Regions from separate parts of the Homo sapiens genome. Here region 2 is linked to region 1. A link means that fine-mapping ties the variant in region 1 to the plasma level of a protein whose gene starts in the linked region. Region 1 holds a variant in brackets. A gene starts in the other region. All regions are shown on their forward strands.

Region 1 (9,609 bases):
AGGCTAGATTAGAACTTCGGGGCCCAAGCAATCCTCTTGCCTTGGCCTCCCAAAGTACTGGGATTATAGATGGCGGCCACCATGCCTCGCCTACTATTTCCTTAATTATCTTATTTGCACATCTGATATTATATGACATCACCTTATTAAGGACTTATAAAGATGTAGCCATTCTGTGACTTAGGAGCATCCAATGGAATGAATCTTCTGCACCCTACAAATGGATGTCAGGGAGGACAGCGTAAGCCTGAGAAATGCAGAATCAGCATTCCTGTGCCATTTCAGCTGCAAGAGCTAAACGGACCTTTAGAACTGGAAATTTAACTCTTATCATTAGTTACTTATCAAATTAACGTTTTTTTTGGTAACTGCTTTTCTTCTTTTCTGTTTTTTTTTGAGACAGGGTTTTGCTCTGTCACCCAGGCTAGAGACAATGGTGCGATCACGCTCACTGCAGCCACGAACTCCCAGGCTCAGGCGATTCTCCCACCTCAGCCATCTGAGAAGCTGGGACTACAGGTGCACACCACCACACCTGGCTGATTTTTCTTATTTTTTGTAGAGACAGGCTTTTGCCATGCTACTCAGGCTGGTCTTGAACTCCTGGGTTCATGTGATTCACCTGCCTCAGCCTCCCAAAGTGCTGGGACTACAGACATGAGCCACTTTGCCTGACCTGGTAATAGCACTATCAAGATATATTTTACATACCATACAATTTATGTAAAATTAACTTTTTTTTTCATTTTTCCTCTTTTGAGACAGGGTCTTACTCTGTCACCCAGGCTGGAGTGCAGTGGTGCGATCTCAGCTCTCTGCAACCTCCACCTCCCGGTTCCAGAGATTCTTGTGCCTCAGCCTCCTGCACAGCTGGAATCACAGGCATGCGCCACCATACCCAGCTAATTTTTGTATTTTTAGTACAAAAATTGACCAGGCTGGTCTCAAACTCCTGGCCTAAACTGATCCTCCTGCCTCAGCCTCCCAAAGTGCTGGGATTATAAGCATGAGCCACCAGTCCTGGCCGAATATTTCTTTTCTTTCTGTAACAAGATATTCTAAGCTCACTTTGTTCTTTGTCTACCCCTGACGTGGAATTAACCGTTTCTCCAGAGGCCCCTAGTTACTTTTAATGGAGTATGGTGTTTAGAGACTAAGATCTGGGCGGTAATTATACTGTTGATTGCTTTTGGTGGAGTGTTTGGTGTTAGAGACTAAGATCTGGGCGCTAATTATACTGTTCATTGCTTTTAGTGGAGTGTGGTGTTAGAGACTAAGATCTGGGTGGTAATTATACTGTTGATTGTCATTGATAATAACATTTGGGAATTGGGAATACCAGCTCATCAGGCCCTCTTAGTAAGGTAGGAAATGTATGTATATGTATCAGTACACTCTCCTGTGAGTGCGTGTGTGTGTGTGTAAGTAATCATGAGTTTGCATCAGTAAGGTTGGTTTGATTCCATCGGTTGGAGACCTTGTCTGATACCAAAGCATTTATTTTAGTTTTCCACCTTTTCACATATGTACTTCCTTCACCAACAGTGAGAAGTCCAGCTGCTGTCATCTCAGCATGTTTACTCATCTGATCTATCCACATCCCGTCCACTTTCTCCCACTCCCATTACCCTCGTCACCCGGCCAACTCTGCGTGACCTCCCGGTCACACACCTCCCCCACCCCTCCAAACAGATCACCTACCTTGCCTCACTTAACGGCTTTAGACGTAATTGCTTTTGAGGAAGGGGAAAGGAGAAAGGGAGGGATCACTGGGCTTTTTTTTCTTAAAATTGTGGCAAAATATATATAACATAAACATTTCCATTTTAACTGTTTTTACGTGTATAGTTAAGTGGCACTAAATACATTCACGTTGTCATGCACATTGCCACCGAGCGTCTCAGAAACTCTGTACTCACTAAACAATCCCTCCCTCTTCCTCCTCCCCCAGCCCTGACAGCCTCTATTCTACGTCCTCTCTCTGTGGATTTGCCTAATCTAGATAGTCCTTATAAGTAGAATCATACCATGTTTGTCCTTTTGTACCTGACTCCTTTTACTTAGCGTGGCATTCTCAGGGTTCATCCACATTGTGCCATGTATCAGAACAGTATTCCTTACGGTGTTCCTTTATGTCTCAATAACACTCCATTGTATGGATCTGTCACGTTTTGAATCAGTTGATGGACACTTAGGTCGTTTGTGTCCACCTCTTGGCTATTGGAGTCTTGCTGCAGCGAACACTGGCTTCCGCGTATCTGTCTGAGTCCCTATTTTCAGTCTACTCAGCAGTAGAATTGCTGTATCATATGGCAATTCTATGTTTAGCTTTTTTAGGAACTACCAAACTAGGTTTTTTGTTGTTGTTGTTGAGGGGTTTTTGGTGTTATTTTGAGGTTTCTTTTTTATTATTATTAATAGACTTTATTTTTTAGAGCAATTTTAGGTTCACAACAAATTTAAGTGGAAGGTACAGAGAGTTCCCATATACCCCTGCTCCACACACTCGTGGCCTTCCGCACCGTCAGCATCCTGTACCACAGAGGCATTTTTGGTACAATCGATGAACCCACATCATCATCCAAAGTCCATGTTCACATTAGGGTTCACTCTGGGTGTTTTCAATGAACCGACATCATCATCCGAAGTCCATGTTCACATTAGGGTTCACTCTGGGTGTTTCGATGAACCGACATCATCATCCGAAGTCCATGTTCACATTAGGGTTCACTCTGGGTGTTCTACATTCTGTGGGCTTTGACACCTGTAGGATATTCGTCCATAAGATAAATGAGTTGTTGAAATGGACTTTGTTATAAGTTAAAGATTGGCTATCTGTGGCTAAATAATTGCTGAGACTAACATAAATAAGAATAAATGAAATAAAAAGTGGGATGAAATACTTCAGGTGAAAGTTCAAAGGGAAACTGTATTATCTCTGTACAAAAGAGACCTTTAAGCGTGTGTTTTCATGTCAACCCTTTGTGTTCTTAACATGTTTTTCCCTGATGAAACTGAGATCATGGACCTTATCATATCACCTTTTGTGCTGATGGCACCTTTTAATATAAATTTTTAAGTAATTTATATATTGATTAAATAAGTCAGCAATTCACATGGTGAAAAATTCAAAAGATGCAAAAGAATGTACAGGGTACAGGAAAAGCCTTTCCCAGCCCCGTCTTTTAGTCACTCACTTCTCCCTTCGGAGGGAAGTAATATTACCAGTTTCTTGCATCCTTCTAAAGATAAACTCTGTGCAGGCACAAATTTATATTTTTGTTTCATTTTTTACACCAATAGTATCAAGTTACACATACTGTTCTGTGGTGTGTATTAAAGAGTCGTTCTTAGTATCATCTTACATCATTCCAGCCCCATGTCTGAACTGGCTGTGGACGTCTCAAGTACATTTGGTTGTACTTTGATCATTCTGAATTCAGTTCCTCCAAAATCCAGTTTAGGAGCCCTCTCTCAACAACGCTGCATTTCGGCTGTGTTGCTTCCAGCACTGGTCCCAGTCTCTCTAATTAGAAACCAGAATGATCATTTTCTACTCTCTGTTCTATAAAGACGGTCAATACAGACTAAGTCTTTAGATTACTCTCCTATTGAAATCTCTTATATCTATTTTATTTTAGGTTTACCTTCATAGTTCAAGCCATTATCACTTCACAGTTTCCTAACTAATTTCCCTCCTCTCATCTTACTTCCATGACCACGTTGATCCTTTTAAAATTTTAGTTTTGATCAAACTT[T/A]TACATGCAAATAGTTTGAAACAAATTTGTTGTCTGCTTCCAAAAAACTACAGCCTCAGGCCAGGCGCTGTGACTCATGCCTGTAATCCCAGCACTTTGGTTGGCTGAGGCTAACACTTGAGGTCAGGAGTTCGAGATCAGCCCAGGCAACATGGTGAAACCCTGTCTCTACTAAAAATACAAAAATTAGCCGGGCATGGTGGCCGCCTGCCTGTGATCCCAGATATTCAGGTGGCTGAGGCATGAGAATCGCTTGAACCTGGGAGATGGAGGTTGCAGTGAGCCAAGATCGCACCACTGCACTCCAGCCCGGGCAATGGAGTGAGACTACATGTAAAAACAAACAAACAAACAGAAAAACACACAAAAAACTAGAGCCTCTGTTATTACTTCCCTAATGTTTATTACTTCTTCCCAGAGTCTTCACTTTCAATTCTTAGTTGTTGTTTTGTTGGGGGTGGAGGAGTCAGGGGAGACTTACTATTTGCTTTCTTATTTTTTTTTATTATTATTACTTTTTTGAGATAGATTCTTGTTCTGTCTCCCAGGCTGGAGTGCAGGTGGCATGATCCCTCGGCTCACTGCAACCTCCGCTTCCCAGGTTCAAGTGATTCTCCTGCCTCAGCCTCCCAAGTAGCTGGGATTATAGGCGCCCGCCACCATGCCTAGCTGTTTTTTTTTATTTTTAGTAGAGACAGGGTTTCACCATGTTGGCCAGGCTGGTCTCAAAATCCTGACCTCAAGTGATCTGCCTGCCTGGGCCTCCCAAAGTGCTGGGATTACAGGCGTGAGCCACTGCACCTGGCCTGCTTTTTTATTTTTAAAAAGCTTATATTATTCTTTCATAAGGTTTGAATTTCAAATGTTAGCTGTTGACTTTGGAAAATAAGAATTTAGTTGGTTCGCCTCGTCCTCTTGCTGTGTTCACTTCCTCTTTCCCCATCGTACACTTCTTGTTTCCCATCCTCCCAGTGGTGATTATGGATAAATACGTATTCACTGTTTACATTACCAGGACTATGCAGACGTGGCGCCTGGTAGCATGCAATCATTACTTCCCCGTTCTCCCCAGTATTTCGTTTTCTCTGGATTTAAGACCTTGTTTTTTTGCAATTAGTTTTCTTTGTATTTAGCACTAATTCAATTCTAAGCTCTTCTCCCAGTTGGGCTCATCTCCTTTCAGTAGAACCAGATACCTGAGGTATTCTATCCATTTCATCTTGAGGAAATCTCTTCTGGACATTTCTGGCCTGTGCTAATCTCGACTATATAATCCTTATGTTGGCAGCACAGCTGGCATCTTGGGATCTCGAGTCAGGATCATCCTGGAGGTCCCTCTGGTCCCTCTGTCTCTCTCATATTGGATCCCCTCCTTCATGGATTTTGTGTCATATTCTTTTTTGGATTTTTTTTATTTTAATGGAACATATCTTCTAGTGGAGATTTGAGGAGTATGTGACGGAGAACAATGTTGAGACTTGCATGTCTGAAAGCATCACTGTTCCACTGTGACGCCTGCTGACAGCGTGGGAAGGCGGGACTTCATCTCTGCCCTCAGGGTCTTCAGCTAGTTTCCACCGTGATGTGACGCCTGCTGACAGCGTGGGAAGGCGGGACCTCACCTCTGCCCTCAGGGTCCTCAGCTAGTTTCCACCGTGACGCCTGCTGACAGCGTGGGAAGGCGGGACCTCACCTCTGCCCTCAGGGTCCTCAGCTAGGCCTGAGAATGAAATAGGCATAAGCCCGATGAACAGGAGGAAAACATACACATTTATTTAATCTAAGTTTTACATGACACAGGAGCCCACATGAGTAAATGAAAACTCAAAGAAGTGTGAAACCTATATACTTTTATACTACATTGAACAAAGGGAGACAGTTACAGAAAAGTAAAATGTATGCGGAGGCTAAAGGAAGATAAGAATTATTTTAAGAAGGTCTGTTTGTACCAAATTCTTTGGCTTTGACTCCCCATATTGGTGATAAAAATGTTTGTTTTCTCCTGGAAAAGGAAGGGTATTATTCATGTGGGAGTTGTGTCTTCTGCTTTCAGGAGGAAGGGGGATGTCAGAACAGTCTTGCTGGGTCTGCTGTGTTGAAGTCCCTTTAGCTGGAAACCTTTGTGCCAAAACAGCACATTTTGGGGTGGCGTGTTCTGCCGTCCTTCAATAGCTTGGGTGGGTATAGCTTTATTTTTGAAAATTATTTTCCTAATGGATGATTGGGTGCAGGAAAAAAAGAAAGAAAATTATTTTCCATCAGAATTCTGAAAGCATTTTTCCTTTGTGTGCTGACTGTCAGTGTCATTCTGAGTTTCAATTGCCAGAATCTTTTTTCTTTCTTCTCTGGAAGCTGTAAATTCTTAATTTTAACTTCGCATACCACATCCTCATCTGCCACAAGCCCCAGTATTCCAAAATTTAATGGGTTGATTCTATTTTTGGTGATCATTAACAGCCTGTTCATATTCAAGAAGTGACTGGAGCCTGGCACAGTGGCTCACACCTGTAATCACAGCACTTTGGGAGCCCGAGACAGGCGGATCACTTGAGGTCAAGAGTTTGAAAGCAGCCTGGCCAACATGATGAAACCCCTCATCTACTAAAAATACAAAAATTAGCCCGGTGTGGTGGTGGGCGCCTGTAATTCCAGCTACACAGGAGGCTGAGGCATGAGAATCACTTGAACCCAGGAGGTGGAGGTTGCAGTGAGCTGAGATGACACTATTGTACCACAGCCTGGGCGACAGAGTGAGACTCTGACTCAAAAAAAAAAAAAAAAGAAAAGAAAAGTGCCTGGAAGCCAGTTTGGAAGCTCTGAGCACACACATAGGGCTTGTTGACTGTGGTCTCCCTATGGGGCTCCTTTCTTACAAAACCTTTGATGTCCGTCCTTTTGACGGGTCAGATTGGTCAGAGAAACTGCCAGTGACCCGCCTAAGTTTATATGCTGTCAGAGTTCTAGGAAGGAAGTCGATTTTGAATGCTTTAACCTGTAAACTTCGAGTCCTTATTTTCATGATGGCATCCCAGCTCTCTGCTGTACTTAGTTTTCCCCAGAACAGAAAAACTCTGTTTTACCCTTTCCAAAAAATAAATCTCCAGTATGCTGGTGTATTAGTCCATTTTGCGTTGCTGTAAAGGAGTATCTGAGGCTGGGTAATTTATAAAGAAAAGAGGTTAATTTTGGCTTACAGTTCTGCAGACTACAGGAAGCATAAGTGCTGTCATCGGCTTCTGGTGACGGCTCAGGAAGCTTACAGTCATGGCGGAAGGCAGAGTGGGGGCAGGCTTATCACATAGAGCGGGAACGAGAGAGGAGGGAGCTCCCGACCTCTTGAACAAGCAGATCTCTGGGGAACTTATTCCTGTGGGGAGGGCACCAAGCTATTCATGAGGGATCCATCCCCATGACCCAGACACCTCTCACTAGGCCCCACATCCAACACTGGGAATCATATTTCAACAGAAGATTTGGACAAATACCCAAACTATATCAGCTGGGTTCGGAACGAACTGGTCCAGCTGGTCGCAGTGAGGGAGAGGAATGCTGGCGTCTGTCTCTGAAACAGACGTTTGTCTAATCCTTTTGATTGTAGCTCTTACTTCTTGGTACCAGGTGTGGCTGTGGCAGTCCTGAGCCCTCTTGTGTTCTGCAGATCAGTTTCTTCCTGGCTCTTCCTGTTGCTGGATTTTGATCCAGCTTTCCTGAGTCTGTTATGTCTGCTGCTACCTGTACATCTACCCTCCTGCCCACACTTAATTCCCAGAATTCCACAATGAGAATACTTCAACTTCAGCAAGGGAGTTTTCCTCTTGTCCTATCAACACTCTCATATAATTCTCATCTCTAAGCCATGTGCATTCTGCTTCCCAACCTGTAACATCTGCCCGGCAGTAGTCCAAATCCTGTGTACATCCTTAGGATGCAAATGCTGTCTTCCATGAAAGTTTCTAATATTTGTTCTTGTTTCTACCATTTATTGACTCTTAATCATAAAATAGTCTGGTACTGTTCATTTTTTGCTTTTTCTTCTAATTTCAAAATACAGTTAGTATTTTATAAAAAAAATTATTATTTTTATTATCTTTTTTTTTTGAGATGGAGTCTCACTCTGTCACCCAGGCTGGAGTGCAGTGATGGGATCTCAGCTCACTGCAACCTCGGCCTCCTGGGTTCAAGTGATTCTTATGCCTCAGCCACTCGAGTAGCCCACCATTACGCCTGGCTAATTTTTGTATTTTTAGTAGAGACGGGGTTTCACCAGGTTGGCCAGGCTGGTCTCGAACTCCTGACCTCAGGTGATCCACCTGCCTTGGTGTCCCACAGTGCTGGGATTACAGGCATGAGCCGCTGTGCCCGGCTGAAAAAAATTTTTATATCCTACTCCTCTTTCCTCAATTGAAACTGCTAGAGGGCAGGCACTGTATTGTGTACTTTTTTAGTGTCCTTTTCAGCGCCAAGCACGGCGCTTGATCAAGTCTCGCTTTAAAGAATAATGATGTTGCACTGTAGCTGTGGTGATGCTTACTTGATGTGGATCACGGAGTGACAGAGAAGAGGTCACACTTCATTGTTTGTTTTTGTGATATCTTAAAACAAATGTTCAAAAGAGTGATATATTTCAACTTAACTGATGATAGAGTTATTTCAAAATGACTTCAAATATACTTTTGAAATTATCTTTGGTAGTTTAATAGTCACCTAAGGAAATCAATCTTAGTAATTTTGTGTCACACGTTGTCTTAACCAGGTTAGTCAACTACCTTTGCTGGACTTGCTTCTGGGCAACCTTGGGCTATTTCCAAAAATTATATCTACTTGCTACTTAAAAATTTGCTACCATCAGACAGGTTCAGAAGCATGCACTGACTTTGAAGATAGGTCCAAGAGAGAAGTTTCAGAAGTGTTTAAAGGGAAGTAGCATAATTGAATGTGAAGTCTTTGTAGAAAACAACTTTGAGGTTTTTTTTAAAATAGTTAAAATTTTTGGCTGGGTGCGGTGGCTCACGCCTGTAATCCTAGCACTTTGGGAGGCCGAGGCGGGCAGATCACCTGAGGTCAGGAGTTCAAGACCAGCCTGGCCAACATGGTGAAACCCCATCTCTACTAAAAATACAAAAATTTAGCTGGGTGTGGTAGCACAGGCCTGTAGTCCCAGCTACTTGGGAGGCTTAGGCACGAGAATTGCTTGAACCCATGAGGCAGAGGTTGCAGTGAGCCAAGATCATGCCACTGCACTCCAGCCTGGGCAACAGAGTGAGACTTGGTCTAAAAAAAATAAATAAATTAAAATTTTAAAAAATTACTATTTCTAAATGTTTTAAAAGTTAGCATTAATGTGTTTTCTTTTGCTTTTAAAAACTGATTTCATTAGCTATCACGTGCAAATGAGCTATGAGTCTTGCCTTTAAAGATAAGGTCTGGATAAAATTCCTGTGACTGAGCAGAGCATTTAGGGTTAGGGAGAAAGAATGAAGAACTTGTGCTGTGTGGCGTTTCTATGCTGTATAAATTCTTGTTTGTTTATAATAAACATTTTTATAATTTCAAACCCCAATTAAAATTTGACTTATGGCCAGGTGCAGTGGCTCAAACCTTTAATCCCAACACTTTGGGAGGCCAGGGTGGGTGGATAACTTGAGTCCGGGAGTTCGAGACCAGCCTAGGCAACATGACAAAACCCAAACCCCATCTCTACAAGAAAATACAAAAATTAGCCAGGCATAGTGGCACATGCCTGTAGTCCCAGCTACTCAGGAGGCTGAGGTGGGGGGATCATCTGAGCCCAAGGTACTCAAAGCTGCAGTGAGCCAAGATCGCCACTGTATTCCAGCCTGGGCAACAGAGC
Region 2 (9,609 bases), not on the chromosome of region 1:
TGCAAAAGATCTGAACAGGCACCTCACCAAAGAAGATATAAGATGATAAATAAGCATATGAAAATATGCCCAACACCATACATCATTAGGGAATTACAAATTAAAACAGATACCACTACACACCTATTAGTGTGGCTAAAATTAAAAACATCATCAACAGCAACTGATAACCCAAAATGCTGACAAGGCTGCAGGGCAACAGGAACTGCCATTCATTGCTGGTGGAAATGCAAAATGTTGTTGTCACTCTGGAGGACAGTTTGGCAGTTTCTTTAAAAGTTAACTGCAGTCTTACCACATGATCCAGCAATCATGCTCCTAGGGAAAACTTATAGTCTCACAAAAACCTACACATGAATGTTTATAGAAGCTTCATTCATAATCACAAAAACTGGAAGCAACCAAGATGTCCTTCAATAGGTGAATGATAAACTATATACAGACAATGGAATACTTAACAATAAAAAGAAACGAGCTATCAAGTCACAGCAAGTCATAGAAGAAAGTTAAATGCATACTGCTAAGAAAGAAGCCAATCAGAAAAGACTACATACCATATAATTCTACCTATATAACATTATGGAAAAGGCAAAACTATAGAGACTTTAGAAACATCAGTGGTTGCCAGGGGCTCTAGGGGAAGGAGGGATGAATAGGTGGAGCACAGGGGATTTTTACAGCAGTGAAACTACTCTGTACAAAACTGTAATGGTGAACACATGTTATTATATATTAGGCAAAATCCATAGAAGTCTGGCTAGGTGCGGTGGCTCACATCAGCACTTTGGGAGGCCAAGGCAGGCAGATCACTTGAGGTCAGGAGTTCAAGACCATCCTGGCCAACATGGCAAAACCCCATCTCTACTAAAAATACAAAAATTAGCTGAGAGTGGTGGCTCACACCTGTAATCCCAGCTACTCGGGAGGCTGAGGCAGGAGAATCGCTTGAACCTGGGAGGCAGAGGTTGCAGTGAGCCAAGATCACGCCACTGCACTCCAGCCTGGGTGACAGAGCAAGACTCTATCTAAAAAAAAAAAAAAAAAAAAATCCATAGAAGTATATGCAGAAAGAATGAATTTTAGTGTAAACTATGAACTCTAGTTAATAATGCACCTATATTGATTCATTAATTATTACAAATATATCACAGTGATGCAAGATGCAAATACTAGGGGAAGCTGAGTGGGGCACAGGGAATGTATGGGAAATCTCTGTAGTAGCTGCTCAATCTTTCTGTCAATCTAAAACTGTTCTAAAAAGTAAAGTGTCTCTCTATATATAAATTGAGTGCTAGCATCAACAAAATGCAAATTTAAACTATCATAAGCTACTATTAGACTGCATTTAAATAGCTGAAATGACAAAAATTGACAATATCAAGTTTTGCCAAGGATGTAGAGCAAATGGAAATCTCCTATATTGCCAACAGGAATGTAAACTGGAACAAACACTTGAGACAACAATTTGGCAGTTTCTTTTTTTTTTTTTTTTTTTGAGACGGAGTCTCTCTCTGTTGCCCAGGCCGGAGTGCAGTGGCGCAATCTCGGCTCACTGCAACCTCCGCCTCATGGGTTCATGCCATTCTCCTGCCTCAGCCTCCCGAGTAGCTGGGACTACAGGCACCCGCCATCACGCTTAGCTAATTTTTTGTATTTTTAGTAGAGACGGGGTTTCACCGTGCCAGCCAGGATGGTCTTGATCTCCTGACCTTGTGATCCACCCACCTCGGCCTCCCAAAGTGCTGGGATTACAGGCATGAGCCACCACGCCCAGCCAGCAGTTTCTTTTGAAGTTAAACATACATACACCATATAATCCAGAAATTCTACTCCTACATATTTACTTAACAAAAATGAAAATATATATCCACACTAAGACTTGTACACAAGTATTATCAACAAATCCACTGAAAAGGATCTTCCTTAAAAAAGAGAATGATTTTATTCCTGTAAGCAGTTTGCAAACCAGGGAGACCCAGCCTTCAGTACAAAACAAAGATGCTCTCCCTGAGAACAGAGAGACAGGTTATCCTTTATAGAAAAAGCTCCCACCCAGATTCCCACTCTGGTCTGCTCTGCAAGTGAGAGGGATGCAAGTATGTTTGGTTTTGATTGGTCAATGCAAGTCACAAGTCTATTTGTTAGATCCAGAAGTCAAGATGAGACTTCCCAGCACCCATCAAATCAGGGAGCATAAATAGGAGCAGACAGCCATGAAAGTCCCCAAATCACGCGAGCCTGTGGTTTCTCAGAGAATGCAGAAGACGTTTGTGACCTGGCTCCATTCTGAATTTAGACCCAGTTAGCCACTCAGGATCCATTTGGAAGGATTGGCTCTTTCAGGTTCATGAAGTGTTCATGGCAGCTTTATTTACAGTAGCCAGAAACTGGGTTCTATCCCAGTTACCTTTAGTGACTTTCAGTCATACTCAGCTTCACTGAACAGTACCCCTGAACTGGCCCTTTAAGAAAAGGAAGGCGTCTTCTGCTCACGAGGTCGGAGGGAGTCCAGAAGGGCAGGGGGTGTCCACTGGAGCTGGGGGTGCTTTGTAGGAGGCAGATGCTGATGAGGAGAATGTAAGGCTTCAGAATATGTAGGAAAATGGGAGTTGTACCTCTTTGTAGTTTGTTGGATAGTGGCTTTGTATTAGTTTCTTGAGGCTGTGATAACAAAGTACCACAGACTTCAACAGCAGCAGTATGTCCTCGCACAGTTCTGGGGGCTGGAAGTCAGAGATCAAGGTATCAGCAGGGTTGGTTCCTTCTGAGGCTGTGAGGGACAGGTCTGTTCCCGGCCTCTTACCCTGGCTTGTAGATGGTCATCCTCATGTCCACACAGTGTTCTACCTATATGAGTGTCTGCCTCTTTATCTAAATCTCCCTTTTTATGGGGACATCAGTCATTCTGGGTTGGGGCCCACCCTAATGACCACATTTGAACTTGATTACCCCTGTAAAGACCCTATCTCCAGATAAGCTCATGTTTTGAGGTGCTGGGAGACAAGACATCAACATGGGAATTTAGGGGGATACAATCCAACCCATAACAGGCTTGAGCCTTTTTCTTTCTGTGATTATGTGGACCACAGTCCCAGATAGCAGCTACTGGTCCCAGATCATGTACAAGTGGTCCCAGCATTGTGAAGGACCTGAGGATGTCTGGGCTACCTTGGCTTTGAATAACCAGCCCAGGAGCTGTGTGAGAGCCTGTCCTGCCCCTTTAGAATACTGAAGTTTGAATTGGATCCCCTAGCTAAAATGTTGGCATTTTAATAGTTACAGAGAAAAGAAAGGAACCTTAGCTCTTCTGTTGAGGGTTTATTCTGCCTGATGCTTTCGAAATAAGTTTGTTATTTTGGCAACACTAATGAGGTAGGTGTTATCCCCTTCCTGCAGCTTAGGATTAAAAAGCTCAGTGGGACTAGGTAGCCTTCGTCCACACTGCCTAAGCTGTTATTCAAGTACAGGTAGTAAGAGGGATTTGAACATAGGCCTTTCTGACTCCAGCATCCGTGTTCTTTTCATAACCATGAGCTATTTCATTTTCTAAAAAGTGTTCAGTTGAAACAAATGCAGAAATTATTCCTCTCAATGTATGTAATAGATCTGTGTTTATCTGATCTAATCCAGGATATATCCTCTGAACAGAAAAGTTAGAAAAGACGGCATTAGAAAAGACATGCAGACAACTCAAAAAACTATGAAACTTTATGGGGAAAATGTGTTATCACCTGATCTATATCTTAAAATGGTGAGAATTCATGGCATCCACCTGTCAAGATAAAGGAGCAAAGGAACCACGCTCCAAGTTTTGGGAAGAAAATAGCACATGGTGGCGACTGGGGGTGACATGAGACCCCACTCCCCATCAGGAATCTCAGGCAGCCCCTCCCTTCTTGGATATGAACAACTGAAGTTTTCTCAATCATTTATTTTATTTTTTAACTGATTAATAATAATTATACATATCCCTGGGCACCTAGTGACATTTCTATACCTATAAGGTATAGTGATCAGATCAGGGTAACTGGCATGCCCGTCATCTCAAACACTGACCACTTCTTTTAAAGTGTAGCCTGGAGCTCCCCACTGTGGATCCAATGGCTGCCACAACCACTTTGCAGAACCAGGTCGCTGAAAGGCAGCTTGACAAAAAGACTAAGATGAGCCAAGTGTACTGCAACATGGCACAGGAACCATTGATCAAATGCTGTAACTTGGTGTCATGACAACGGACAATGATGTCGAGTGGAGTGCTGGATCTCTTATCACCACTGTATCACACTGATTTAATCACACTAATCTAAGCTTCTTGAAGGGGAAAGAGAAAAGCTTTGTAGTAGCTCCCCTTCCTGGTGCTGTTCAGAAACAACAATGGTGCAGGCCACACCTCACAACGAAGGGGGCTCGGCTGGCTGGGCACAGTGCTAAATGAGCCGCAGGTCAAGAGGTCACTCCTGCAGCCAGGCCGACCTTTAGCCACACTCTGGTCCAGGCGACAGATGGGGCCCTAGCCTCAGTCCCCTTTCATCTCACATATGGGGAGTTCTTGGCCACAAGAGGACCAATTCAAAATAATATCCAGTGACTTGGTGAATAAACTCTTCCACTGGAGATGGTATTGCATTGTTGGATGTATCTTGAACTACAAAGCTTGCTTGGGGAGATTTGTATAAATTGAAGATCATTTGATTGGTTTTCATTCAAGTCCCTGCTTTCAAGTGCCTCCTGTATGTTTTTCAGTGGAACACAAGAACCCGAATTCAGTCCTTCACCTATTTCTACTGGTGTTGAAATCTATAAAGACATAAAATCTACTTGCTTAGCCAATGAGCCTTACAGAGTGTCTAGTTGCTCTGATTTAATATATCAGTGTATCGGGAAACTTTAATCCTGAGTGCAGGCTGTTGGCATATGGATTCCATGCTGGTGGTAGGTTTGGACTACCTCAGAAAAGAAATGGGCACATGCCTTCTTGTAAATATTTTGTCTTTGTAAATATTTTCTTTGTATTCATGGGTTCAAGATGCCCAGGAAACGTATGTGAAGCCCAGATGTCACAGGAATTTTCCTGGTCTGCTTTAAGGAAGTCCTTAAGCATCACACCTGCCAGTTCAAATACTATTTGAGCCCTGTGCATTTTTGAGAAATGATGTATAAGTAGAAAAATTATACAAGAAACATGGAAAAATCAACAGGACTATTTAAATGTTATACAGAACTTATGAACAGTTCAAACTAAATATTTTGCTATTAAAATTATTCAAGAATCATAGAAATCTGGAAATAAACACTTCATAAATAACGTTTTCAAATATCGCGTCAGGAAAAATTAGACAAAACCAGTTAAGGAGGGAAGTTACATTGAAAAAGACTGAGTTCTACTATCCCCTAAGTTTTGCAAAAATATTTTTAACTTACTTTCTAAAAGTTAGTGAGTTTCCATTATAAAATAGAAAAATTGTCTTCATTCCATGAAAGAACTGTCTGAAAATCAGAAAAGCACCATATCCTGGATTTCAAGGAAGATGAAACTTCTTCTTATCTTCTATTTTACTAAATACTCAAAATAAAATAATCATATTGTATTGAATCTGACATTGTTAAGGAAAATAGCTTAAAATTTTTAAATAATGAGCAATATATTTAATTTTAAAATACGAAGAATTAGGCTAAGGTGGTAATTTTTTAGTGAGTTGAAAGTCCAAACTATGAGTTCGGAAGAAACAGCCCTAAAAGGCAAATAACATGGCTTTGGAATAATCACAGGGCAAATGCTTTGTTCTACATAATTCTTCTTTTGTGAATTTTAAAATGCTCAACAAGTATTAATGAAATATGTCTAAGAAGTAGATATTGCTTTAAAATCTAATTTCCAGAGTCCCGAACTAAGGCAAAGATTGAGATTAAGTCTCCGCCCAAAGTCTTAAGTGAGCCAGTGGAAGATGGCAGTTTATTCATGAATTGTTGGTTATCTGCTGCTTAACTACTTAACACAACCCGGTTTGATTGGTAATCAGATCCTAATAATGTATGTTTCAAAGAAAGGGCAGTTTCCTTAAAATCCTTAAAGACTTGTCACTTTGAAAACTGGAATCAAAATGTGAAAATGTTATCGGTCCATCTGGCAGTGTCCTTGGGTGTTTTTTAGAGTGGTCTCATAGTGCTATTTAACTATGCTGAATATTTGACACCCAGTCTCTGTAGGAAATTGTGATTTTTATCAGCGAAGAGGCAATTAAATGCTGTCATTTGGCACGTCCATCCATCAGGGATCTTATCACCCAAGAAGCATCCAGCAGCAGTTGCTGTCCTTTCCAGCTGGCAGACAGATAACAGAAACTGTCCTGTGTGAGGCACAATAGTCTAACATGATTAGAAATCAGCCAAACTCTGGCTTCTCTTGAGCTATACTCCCCCACAGGCTGAATTATAGCTCTCCTACCAGTCCCACGGCGCTGAATGATGTCATGGGATCTGCAGTTCAGCGAGATGAAAGGGATAAAGCAGAACCCGCTGGCACTAGGAAAAGCTTCCAACACACAGTCCACAACACAGCTTGGGAACCAAAAAAGCTACAGATCCAGCCACTCAGCCCAAGCATGGGAGAACTACCAGCATTGCCTCATTGCAAAAAAGAGGAGGAAAACAACGTGATCCATGTTTAACAAAAGAGTCTGTGGACTAGGAGGTGGGAGGGTAACTACCTGCTGAAAGTGAACTTTCTTTGATATCCATGCATATATATAAACTCAGCCCTGCCTTTGATGTTCAGCAACTGATTCACTGATCAGATTACAGGCATTTCATCTCCCTGCTCGTCTGCCTTTGATCTGCATGGTTAATTTTATTTTCCTGGATTTGAAGTTTCGTCTGGGCTTGTGCTGACATACATTTTTGGGAAGGTAGAAGCATTTGGCACAGAAGTGCTGCCAGGAGAAACTAAGTTGCTGAACGGGTAAGTACTGCAAAGAGCTCAGCATGTTGCAGGTACTCTGTTTTAAGCTTTGTTATAGCTTTCACTGCATTTTTCGCATGTGTTCTGAGAAAAGAATGGTTTTAATTAATTTTTTAGAAAGCATTTATACAGCTGAATACTACATGATGCTGAATGTGTGTATCAGAGTAACTATGGAACTTGATGTAATTTTTAGTAGTTTGTACAAGAGGGTTTGCAGTCTGTCATACAAATTTTACTTGGAAATGAGTTGTACAAACAGGACAAAACAGAACAGCGCTCACTTTAGCATGCAACTGGTACTTCAACCCCTGAGATCTGTGAGCTATAATTGCTCTAAGTATTTACAGGTTACCTTATTTAGTAAACAGTCAGTGCAACTTTGCTTGTTGAAAATGCTTTCTTTGTTTTCTTATATAAAAGAGTAAAATGTATCTCTGGCAATACTGTTTCTTTAGTTTATTTATTCTCTCACTTCCAAGATGTAAATCTATCAAATACACTTCCTTATGCAGTTTGTACACTCAAGGGAATCACTGAAAAACCATCAAGTATGATTAAAGACTTTTATGTGTAAAACTGAAGAATTTAAAAACAGTGAGGATAAAGTTGCACTAAGTTTGGCTAAAAATACTCCAGTGATTTTCTATAACCTTTGGAAATAGCATAAGCCTTATTTACAGAAACATTCACAAGGTTAATATTCCTAAATTAACATTTACTTTACATTTATAGTGACAGCTGTTTTAAGTCAAAATTTGCCAACTGTTTATGAAAACTATCTGAGTAATCAACAGTTATTATGTTACATAAAGTATCTTAGTCACATTTTCACTTTAGCTAATGCCCAACATGACAAAACCAAATTATATTGCTGTACCGAATTTGAAAGTTAACTGTTATTTTTTTGTCAGTTCATGATACACACACACTCACGCTCACACACACACACAGTAAAATCTTTACAGTGAAATATAAAAACTAAATACAATGGAAAAGTAACACTGTTACTTTGTTCGCGATGTTTTTTTTTTTAATGTTCTAGTCCTAAATTTATCTGGGCAAAATATTTAATTATTATCACAAGTCTATTTGATGCTAGCTGAACCATAAAGAAACCATAAGTGATAAGACCAGTTATCCTTTAGTCTGAAATTCTGATGAAACAGGAAAGGTCTAATGAGTCTCATTTCATAAGTAATTAATTTTTCACAGCCAATTAATTAAATTACTTTCTACACTTTCCTCTTGATACTAGAAGGGTAATTAGCATTGTTTATTTAATTTTAAAACTTTGCTAGTTGTTAAGTGGAGGTTATTTAAAGCCATGCTAAACTGATTATATTTTTAAAGTGTGTCATTAATAACTTAATCTTAAAGATTTAACTGCTGTTTTTAGTCATGCCAGGAGAGGCATTTGCTTTTTTTTTCTAAGAGTACAACAAATCATGTTCACAATATCCTGCAATATCGGTTTAGTTTGATTTTTTTTTAATTTGTTTGCTTAAAATCTTCCTTTTAATCACAAAAGTGGTATTAATGTTCACATTCAGATAAAGAAAATTAGCCTTTTAAAACAATGACTGGAGATGGTGCCTAAAGAAATAGTGTGTCTGAAACTTGCTCATTTAGTTCAGATTTGGATTTTAAAATTTTTAAAATGACTGTTTATCCTGCTACTAGGATCATTTTAACAAATACAGGCTCTCCTCAGCACAAAACAAAGGGGAGAATTAGCAATTATCTGATTAATTTAGGCTTTGTAGAAAACTAGCTTGGGCAAGTCAAGTCCTTGAAAATCCACTTCAGTGTTTGAATTAATTCAGTTAATTGTTTACTTCTAGTGTCATTGTTGAGAAATGAAATAGAGTGTATTTGATTTTAAAATAAAGATGGTTGTATCTGAAGGTACAGGTACAGTCTCAAAAGGCATTTCCTAATTAATTGCCACAAAATGACTTTGGCAGATATAGTCCTATTACTTCTACTGAACAAAACCCTTATGTGACATTTTTCAAAGCACTTTCCTATCTGTTGCTTCAATGGCAGCTTTGTTACTACAGAAAGTCCAAGTCTTCAAAAGACTTTTATGTTGAGTCCTGATACTGTCACCAATTAGCTATATGACCTCAAGAGAGTTTCCTCATGTGTGAAGTGAGGGAGTTGATCACATCATCTTTATGAAATAAGCAGAATTGGAATTTTTATGGCCATTTTACAGATGAGGAAACTGAGGCTATAGAAAACGAATGTCCCTATCTTAACAAGGTCACATGGCTGATTTTCCCAGTTCTAGTCCAATGTTCTTTCCAGTCTACCATGCAGGGTCTGCTTTCCAACAACTGCTTAAACAAATGCACTCTGTAGCTCATCAAAGAACAATATTAGTTTGAAAAATAAAGACAGCCACTTCCTATTGTAGTGCATTTTTTTTTTGTTTCCATGATAGATATGTCAGTCAGCTGGATTCGTCTGATTATTTTCCAACTGTTCCTTCTACTTCTGGACTTCTAAGCTGTCTAAACACAGTAGCTGCTACCCATAATTTAACATAATTTAACACGTAAAATAATTTTCACAAAAAGTTTAATGCATCAATGTGATGTGGAATTATATATGTATTTGTGTGTTTGCCTCTGTGTGTGTGTGTA

Direction of the effects. Positions count from the first base shown, and alleles are read on the strand shown. Strength reflects both the effect of a copy and how common the allele is.
With allele T in place of A in region 1, the plasma level of the protein whose gene starts at base 6,522 in region 2 is lower (weak association).

Evidence for each region. A credible set is the group of variants that fine-mapping cannot tell apart. PIP is the posterior inclusion probability: the model's chance that the variant is causal. The UK Biobank Pharma Proteomics Project read protein levels with antibody pairs (Olink). The fine-mapping took linkage between variants from a reference panel, not from the people measured, so its PIPs are less certain.
Region 2: it holds the start of TNFRSF19, and the variant in region 1 is the best candidate, but not a certain one, in a credible set for the plasma level of the TNFRSF19 protein (UK Biobank, PIP 0.51).

What each region holds. Positions count from the first base shown.
Region 1 is chr3:198,025,579-198,035,187 of GRCh38, forward strand. All of the region lies in intron 15 of LMLN (leishmanolysin like peptidase), which reads left to right. Among named protein-coding and RNA genes, the nearest start is that of LMLN-AS1, 9.1 kb to the right of the region's middle. The variant T/A (reference allele first, on the strand shown) is at 3,759.
Region 2 is chr13:23,563,891-23,573,499 of GRCh38, forward strand. TNFRSF19 (TNF receptor superfamily member 19) reads left to right here and starts at 6,522. Exons shown (of 10, transcript NM_148957.4): 1 at 6,522-6,958. RefSeq lists enhancers at 3,933-4,445, 4,446-4,957.